2 separate regions of the Homo sapiens genome follow, and region 2 is linked to region 1. The links come from fine-mapping of genetic effects on gene expression. A gene starts in region 1. The other region holds a variant in brackets. All regions are shown on one strand. Distances are between the middles of the regions.

Evidence for each region. PIP is the estimated chance that this variant, and not a neighbour inherited with it, causes the effect.
Region 2: its variant is the best candidate, but not a certain one, in a credible set for the expression of ESAM in breast (GTEx, PIP 0.78).

What each region holds. Positions count from the first base shown.
Region 1 is chr11:124,759,750-124,764,135 of GRCh38, reverse strand. It overlaps ESAM (endothelial cell adhesion molecule), which reads left to right and starts at 1,846. Exons shown (of 7, transcript NM_138961.3): 1 at 1,846-2,051. The coding sequence starts at 1,982. The region is part of intron 1 of ESAM-AS1 (ESAM antisense RNA 1); the gene reads right to left. RefSeq lists silencers at 1,058-1,107, 1,648-2,057 and enhancers at 1,788-2,291, 4,186-4,255.
Region 2 is chr11:125,540,649-125,545,034 of GRCh38, reverse strand. No RefSeq gene overlaps it. Among named protein-coding and RNA genes, the nearest start is that of EI24, 27 kb to the left of the region's middle. The variant C/T (reference allele first, on the strand shown) is at 2,333.

The sequences.
Region 1 (4,386 bases):
AATGAATGTTGAGGCTACACCTTATGTAGCACTTGATCAGGATAAGCACAGCCTGTGTGATTAGATACTTGGTGTTTCTGGGTTAGAACCAAAAGACTTTGTACTTCCTCTCTTGGAAGGAGTTACTTATTTGGGGTGACTTGTCTGGAAACAAAGGAGGGGTGTTTACAAGAGATGGTTTGCAATGCAGACTAAAGCCAAGAAAAATTTGAGTGTGATGGAATAGGAAAACCAAACCAACAGCCCCCAACCCCACCACACAATCTGCTTGGCCAAGTCCAAGTTTGTAGCTCCCTACACAAGAGTGTGAGACTGGCAGGTATCTCTTCCTGTTGTCTGTGCCTCCACTGAGCTGCCAAGTACTAGATTCTAGGGTTTGCATGAGCAGTTTTGTGTTTGCATAGGCATTTCTCAAAGCCACTGCATGGCAGGTATTTGAAGAGGAGCCAGGCAGGTCACACTAGAAAGAAGCAGCTGAGAGGGCATATGGGGCACTGTATAGAAAAAGATCTTGTGTGAAGTGTGGGCCCAGGGACTACACTCTGTTAAAACAGCAAAACTATGTGCAGTAAATGGAATCCCGCAGGCCTGGCTGCTTTTCTTCCCAGACAGCTCTGCCCGCAGAGCGGGCAGCGTCAGGAATTCGTTGTTATGCTTTCTTCCCTCACTGACCTTTGCTGGGTGGTTGAGCTGTGCTGGGATGTTTGAAGCATTTTTTTTTTTTTTTTTTTTTTTTTTTTTTGGCTGTTGGACAGAAAAGCAAGAACAGGTGCGTGCCTTTCTGTAAGGGAGCGGCGGCCGCCAGAGGGCGCAGAGGTGCCTTTTGACCGAATGGCGCGGGAAGGGGGGCGTAAAATTCAATTCACAGCGACCAAGATCTAGTCTCGGGAATTAAAGGATCAGAGCGCGCCTGAGCCTTTCGCTGCGGGGATGGGAGGCACTGAAGATTTGGGGGATAAAGAAGAAACGGAGGGACTGTCCTGTCTTCCTTCCCGCAGCCGCCCCTCCTCCCCAGTCAGCATCAGGCCCGTACGCCGCTCATTTCAGGGGCTAAGCTGGGAGCAGCACGCACGTTGCCTCAGTTTCCTGCTCAGCTCCCGGGACTACCTTGTGCCAACCTTCCCTGCTCGGAGTATGAGGCACAGGCCGGGGTAATCCTCCAGCCTGGGCTGGGGTCTGCTGAACTCGCGGAGCGCTTTTTCCTGCCCGCGGGTGAAGATTCCCCGCTGGCGCGTCCCGGGGCGCCCTGGGCTCCCGCGCGACCTCTGCCGTCGCCCTCGCTGCCGCGCTCCGGTGGCCGCGCAGCCCCCGCCTCCAGGAAAGCCACAGATTCCCGCTGTGCCAGGGAGCCCGCGCGGCCGGCGCTCCGGCCTCTCCCTGCAGCTGGAAAACGCTGCTCCCCTCTTCCTCCTTCAGGAAGACCGCCCTGATTGGGCCGGGGATGCGGCACCCCCAAGTTTGGAGCCAGAGCCCAGGAGCGTTTACATGTCAGGTGTTACGGGTGGTTCTGACTTCGGATAGTCCCCAAATTTCCCACCCTTCCTGGTCACCCTTCCTATCCCACCCCGGCGGAAGGGAAGGTTACGGCTCAGGATAGTTCTGGAGCCTCCTCTTCCCCCTCTACTCGTACCTGGCTGGCTCGTGGGGCATCAGAGCTTACCTCACCCCTCCCTGCGTCCAGACCTGGAGGAGGCCGCAGGGTCCCGCCGTCCGCGCGCTGGGGGCGCCCCCGGGCGGCGGACCCCGCGCGCCCCGCCCGGGAGGACGGCGACCTCTCCGCCCCCTCGAATGCCCCGCCCCGCTGTCGCCGTCGGTCCCCACCCCGCCACCGGCACACAGGCGCGCAGACTTGGGCTGGAGCCGCCCTGGGTGTCAGCGGCTCGGCTCCCGCGCACGCTCCGGCCGTCGCGCAGCCTCGGCACCTGCAGGTCCGTGCGTCCCGCGGCTGGCGCCCCTGACTCCGTCCCGGCCAGGGAGGGCCATGATTTCCCTCCCGGGGCCCCTGGTGACCAACTTGCTGCGGTTTTTGTTCCTGGGGCTGAGTGCCCTCGGTGAGTGAAACCCGGACCTGGAGGGGACTTGGGATGCGGGATGGGGTGAGTTCGACCCTGAGGGAGAACTTTGGCCACTGCTGCGGAACTGGGTCCCACGACTCGCCCTCCTCCCCTGACCTCCTAATCCCACTCCAGGGCATCACTGGCTGGCGCTGACTTCTCGCTTTGTCGGGGACAGCCCCCAGTTTGGGTGTGGGGGCGGATGGCGGGGGGAGGTAAGGGCATCTCTCGGAAGACCTGGATACCTCTGGGGTGAGTTATCGGAACCATTCCTCACCCTGTCCACTCCCCACCCCCCACCCAGCAGAGCCGGATGAGCTGAGCCGCTAGATGAGACACTGGCTAAAGAGCTTAAGGACTTAACTCTAGCCCCCTCTCATCCCCGACCCCACATACAAGCTGATGAGGAAGATCCCCCGGGGAAATACCCCTGGTCCCCAGGCTTGACACACGCACTTCGTGTCAATTCCCCAGCGCAGATGCTCTCTCTTGCCCCCTCCTGCTTCCTGCCCTGGGAATCAAGGGAGGTGCCCCAAAAGGACGACCGTGAGGTCATTTGGGACACAGGAAATGGGGGAGGGGTTCAAACGCACAGAGAAACAGAATTGTGACCACCCCACCCCCCCAAGGCCCACCACCCTTATTGGTTTCCAGAGCCAAAGGGAAGAGGGGAAATTGGGAGGAGGGTGGCCAAGGGTCAGAGAGGAAGGGAACCTCCTTGGAGCAAGTGTTTGGGAAGTGTTGTAGGCCTCCAGGGGCGCTGGCTTCAGCTGAAGCTGGGGTGGCTCAGAACTCCATCTGGGAGAGGACCCGGCAGGACTAGGCCCTTTTAAACTATTTCACTTGCTGTCCCTCAGCTTTCTTGCCATCTCCCTTCAAGGATCTCGAATGGGAGTGAAGGGTGGGTTTAGCTATATTGACTTTAACTCATTTCTCAGGTTGGAGGATGTCAGGACAAGTAAGGCCTGGGAAGCTGTAGAGTGAAATTCTACAATGATGGGGACAGAGATGAGGATCACCAGTGTCCCCTTTAGCATGTTCTGTGCCCCACAGGTGTCGGGGCATGCAATATTATAGTCCTTGGACAAAATGAGTCTCAAGTACAGCCCCCCAGGCCACACCAAGGCCACAAGTAGCCTTCTGTCCCTCTGGGCTTGGTGGGCCTGCTCCAGGATCCCTCAGACTTCTCATCCCGCCTTTCCCAACTTCAACTTCAGCTCTGTTCCTTCTGCATTCCACCCCAACTCTATCCCCCTTCCTTGTGGGGGGTGGGGGCTGGGGGAATCTCTGAAGCCAGGGAGGACAGTTCAAGTTGACTGCCTGAGTGTCCCAGGCTTCACCTGCTGCTCATCTGCAACCCTTTGTCCTACCCCAGCTTTGAGCCTCAGTTTGTCAGACTGAAGACCTGGACTCAAAAGTTCCAATCGGTCCCCCTGGGGGGTTGCCCAGTTCCCGCCAGCCACTCGAGGGTTAAATGGCACTGGTGACCCCGGTGCAACGTGCAGGCGCCCGGCTCCGCTCTTCTGGGCTCTGGAGGAGGCTCTCCGGCTCAGTAGGCTCCTCGGCGGCTCAGTGCTGCTGCCCCTGGGGCGTGAGAAGCCCGCGGGGGGAGTTTCTCAGAGAAAGAGGGAGACTAAAAATAGCCCCGGGGAGCGGGCCCATTTCGCTCTCCTTCGGCCCCTGCCGGCTCCCTCACTCTGGCCTCGGAGAGGGCTGTGGGCCGGAAGGGTCCCTTTCTTGGGCTGTCCCAGTGTCCTTCGATCAGACCCAACCAGACTCCTTTTCTCTCCCAGTGGCTCCGTGGACCCTGGGACCGAAAAAAACGGACCAGTTGGTGACTTCCGAGCCAGCAGACACCCAGGAGGGAGAGCAGAAAAGCCTCAGGCCCTCTTCTGTTCCTAGTTTCTGACAGGGCGAAGGGCAAGGAGCATGTGCCCAGACCCCAGTGTGTCCGTTACTATCTCTTTTAACTCTCCTCTACCTTCTGGAAAGTGGAATTATAAATGTGGGACCTGGGGAGGTCGCTGGTGGTCCACAAGGTGAAGGAAGGGCGCGCCCCTTCTGGGCCCCAGGCAGTTTCCCGGCGGAAACCCTTTCTGGCCGCCGGGTGTGTGTCGTAGAAAGGCTGGGGGAGAGCCGGCAGCACCTGCAGGCTCCAGGCGTGCCCGGCCTCAGCGGAATGGCCAGCGGGCCGGGTCCCCAGGGGGCGTCCAGCTCCTTGAGGCGGGGATTGTTTCCTCCCGTAGAGCCTCCGGTCTAGTGGCCCCCCCTTCATTGTCTTCTGCCTTATCACTGGGTACAAATTTCCTGCCCAGACCACAGAGATCCTCCA
Region 2 (4,386 bases), 780 kb before region 1:
CAAGTAGCTGGGACTACAGGTGCCCGCCATCACGCTTGGCTAATTTTTGTTTTTTAGTAGAGATGGGGTTTTGCCCTATTGGTCAGGCTGGTCTCAAACTCCTACCTCAGGTGATCCATCCACCTAGGCCTCCCAAAGTGCTGGGATTACAGGCATGAGTCACTGCATCCAGCCTCATAAAGTTTTTAATAAAAATACTGATTTTTTAAAGAAGTTTTGTACATCAATAGGCATCCCTAGATGAGACTAATTTGGGAGCCCTTATTTTCAAATTCATTTCAGTACAGTGTTGTTTATTTGTAACGTTCCACTGTAAGTTATCTTTAGTAATATTTTGCCATTTCTGTAAAACTTTGCTGCTTCCAGGGTATAATACTTACGCATGTTTAAGCTGGAAGGAACTCAGTTCTTCAGAAGTTAAAGATCTTGGCAGGTGTGGTGGCTCATTCCTGTAATCCCAGCACTTTGGGAGGCTGAGGTGGGTAAATAACTTGAAGCCAGGAGTTCAAGACCAGCCTGGCCAACATGGCAAAATCCACGTCTCCTCTAAAAATACAAAAATTAGCCTGGTGTTGTTTCACACTCCTGTAATCCCATCTACTTGGGAGGCTGAGGCACGATAATCTGTTGAACCCAGGAGGTGAAGATTGCAGTGAGCCAAGATCATGCCACTGCACTCCAGCCTGGTTGATGAAGTGAGACTCTGTCTCAAAAAACAAAACAAAACAAAACAAAACAACAACAACAACAACAAAAACCGAGAAAAAGAAATTAAGGATCTCATTTTTACCTCAAATATTGGCCTTGCTCTCAGGTTCCCTTGATCAACTCAGACAATTTTTTTTCTACATAATGGCACATGAAAAATGAAACAAAGGGGTAGTACACAAAAGTCCATGAGAATTTCCAAAAGCCAAATTTTACATCCCCTGCAACATTGCCATTTACTACCAGTTTCTTTCTGACCCAGTCAGATGTAGGAGGCCTCTAACTGGATCCAAGATGATTAATTCCAGATCCAATCTGATCCTGAACCAAGTCCAGTTTCCATCACAACTTCCAAATCCAGATTAAATCAGAGACTTGCTCAAAGAAACTCAGTTCAAAACAAATCCGTGGAGCTTCAGCATCTGAGGGAGACCTTACCATGATCCTCAACTACTCTGAGAGAGAAACGAACACAATGGGTCCAGCAGATACCTTGCTTGGTCACTCAGCACTCCTGGGGGTCTCGTTAGAGGCTCTAGTTCAGATCCCACTTCTGACACCATCTGATGAAAGAAAAACTTCAGCCAAATTAAATTTAAAGACATTTAATTGAACAATAAACAATTTGTGAATTAGGCAGTCTCCTGACCCAGAGTAGGCCCAGACTCCAGCACAGCCATATGGTGAAAAAGATTTATTGACAGAAAAAGGAAAGTGATGTACAGAAAATGGAAGTGAGGAACAGAAAATGGAAGTGAGGAACAGAAACAGCTGGATTGGTTATAGCTCAGTGTTTGCCTTATTTGAACATGGTTTGAACAGTTGGCTACATTTGATTGGCAGAAACTCTGGGATTGACACAAGGTAGGGTACAGTCTGTTTACACCTCCACTTGCAGCAGTTCATGATGTACAGTAAAACCCTTAGGCCAAACTTAAAATATGTGAGGAGACAGCTTTAGGCTAAACTTGATTTAACAGTAGTGAACTATCACTTCCACGTGACACATATAAGAATAGAGCTATCACAGGCATGCAGAATACAAATGGCAGGTCCAAAAGATATTTAATTGCCATGTTTTTTAAAAAAATTCTTCTCTTACTTTAGATAATTAAAAGTTACAAGAGCCAACAAAAGGTGAAGGCCTTTTCAAAAGAGAAAGACCTGAATTTTTGAGATACTAATCTGAAGAATTTCAAAGAGACAGATTATAGAATTTAAAAATTAAAAACCTCTTGCATTAAGTATAAGTTAATATTTTAATAAAATCTTGTTTTAACCAATTATTTAATTTTGTATTAGCATATTTTTAAATACCAAAGTTCAATTTTAAAAAACTATTATAATTTTCTGTAATTAAAACCAATTAATCACATAATACTTTTATAAGTTCCCTTTTTACTAACCTTATTACAACTTAGACCATTCACAACATACTTGGACCTTCTGGTTTGTCCTAAATATTTCACTTTCTTAAACAACCCAGTCATTTTATTTTAGAACAAAAATTCACTAGGCAAGATTCTTTCTCATATAAAATTACTTTCCTGTTTGCCTTAAATACAAAAAATGCCTCTTTATATTGATAATTTTCTTTACATCTCTTATTTCCTGCTTCCTTTTA[C/T]CTTGTTTTACACATAACCTTTAAATAAGCTTTGAATTAAATAAACATATTGAACTTTTTTTTTTTTATTTTTTTATTATACTCTAAGTTTTAGGGTACATGTGCACATTGTGCAGGTTAGTTACATATGTATACATGTGCCATGCTGGTGCGCTGCACCCACTAATGTGTCATCTAGCATTAGGTATATCTCCCAATGCTATCCCTCCCCCCTCCCCCGACCCCACCACAGTCCCCAGAGTGTGATATTCCCCTTCCTGTGTCCATGTGATCTCATTGTTCAATTCCCACCTATGAGTGAGAATATGCGGTGTTTGGTTTTTTGTTCTTGTGATAGTTTACTGAGAATGATGGTTTCCATTTTCATCCATGTCCCTACAAAGGATATGAACTCATCATTTTTTATGGCTGCATAGTATTCCATGGTGTATATGTGCCACATTTGCTTAATCCAGTCTATCATTGTTGGACATTTGGGTTGGTTCCAAGTCTTTGCTATTGTGAATAGTGCCGCAATAAACATACGTGTGCATGTGTCTTTATAGCAGCATGATTTATACTCATTTGGGTATATACCCAGTAATGGGATGGCTGGGTCAAATGGTATTTCTAGTTCTAGATCCCTGAGGAATCACCACACTGACTTCCACAATGGATGAACTAGTTTACAGTCCCACCAACAGTGTAAAAGTGTTCCTATTTCTCCGCATCCTCTCCAGCACCTGTTGTTTCCTGACTTTTTAATGATTGCCATTCTAACTGGTGTGAGATGATATCTCATAGTGGTTTTGATTTGCATTTCTCTGATGGCCAGTGATGATGAGCATTTCTTCATGTGTTTTTTGGCTGCATAAATGTCTTCTTTTGAGAAGTGTCTGTTCATGTCCTTCGCCCACTTTTTGATGGGGTTGTTTGTTTTTTTCTTGTAAATTTGTTTGAGTTCATTGTAGATTCTGGATATTAGCCCTTTGTCAGATGAGTAGGTTGCAAAAATTTTCTCCCATGTTGTAGGTTGCCTGTTCACTCTGATGGTAGTTTCTTTTGCTGTGCAGAAGCTCTTTAGTTTAATTAGATCCCATTTGTCAATTTTGTCTTTTGTTGCCATTGCTTTTGGTGTTTTGGACATGAAGTCCTTGCCCACGCCTATGTCCTGAATGGTAATGCCTAGGTTTTCTTCTAGGGTTTTTATGGTTTTAGGTTTAACGTTTAAATCTTTAATCCATCTTGAATTGATTTTTGTATAAGGTGTAAGGAAGGGATCCAGTTTCAGCTTTCTACATATGGCTAGCCAGTTTTCCCAGCACCATTTATTAAATAGGGAATCCTTTCCCCATTGCTTGTTTTTCTCAGGTTTGTCAAAGATCAGATAGTTGTAGATATGCGGCATTATTTCTGAGGGCTCTGTTCTGTTCCATTGATCTATATCTCTGTTTTGGTACCAGTACCATGCTGTTTTGGTTACTGTAGCCTTGTAGTATAGTTTGAAGTCAGGTAGTGTGATGCCTCCAGCTTTGTTCTTTTGGCTTAGGATTGACTTGGCAATGCGGGCTCTTTTTTGGTTCCATATGAACTTTAAAGTAGTTTTTTCCAATTCTGTGAAGAAAGTCATTGGTAGCTTGATGGGGATGGCATTGAATCTGTAAATTACCTTGGGCAGTATGGCCATTTTCACGATATTGATTCTTCCTACCCATGAGCATGGAATGTTCTTCCATTTGTTTGTGTCCTCTTTTATTTCCTTGAGCAGTGGTTTGTAGTTCTCCTTGAAGAGGTCCTTCACATCCCTTGTAAGTTGGATTCCTAGGTATTTTATTCTCTTTGAAGCAATTGTGAATGGGAGTTCACCCATGATTTGGCTCTCTGTTTGTCTGTTGTTCGTGTATAAGAATGCTTGTGATTTTTGTACATTGATTTTGTATCCTGAGACTTTGCTGAAGTTGCTTATCAGCTTAAGGAGATTTTGGGCTGAGACAATGGGGTTTTCTAGATAAACAATCATGTCGTCTGCAAACAGGGACAATTTGACTTCCTCTTTTCCTAATTGAATACCCTTT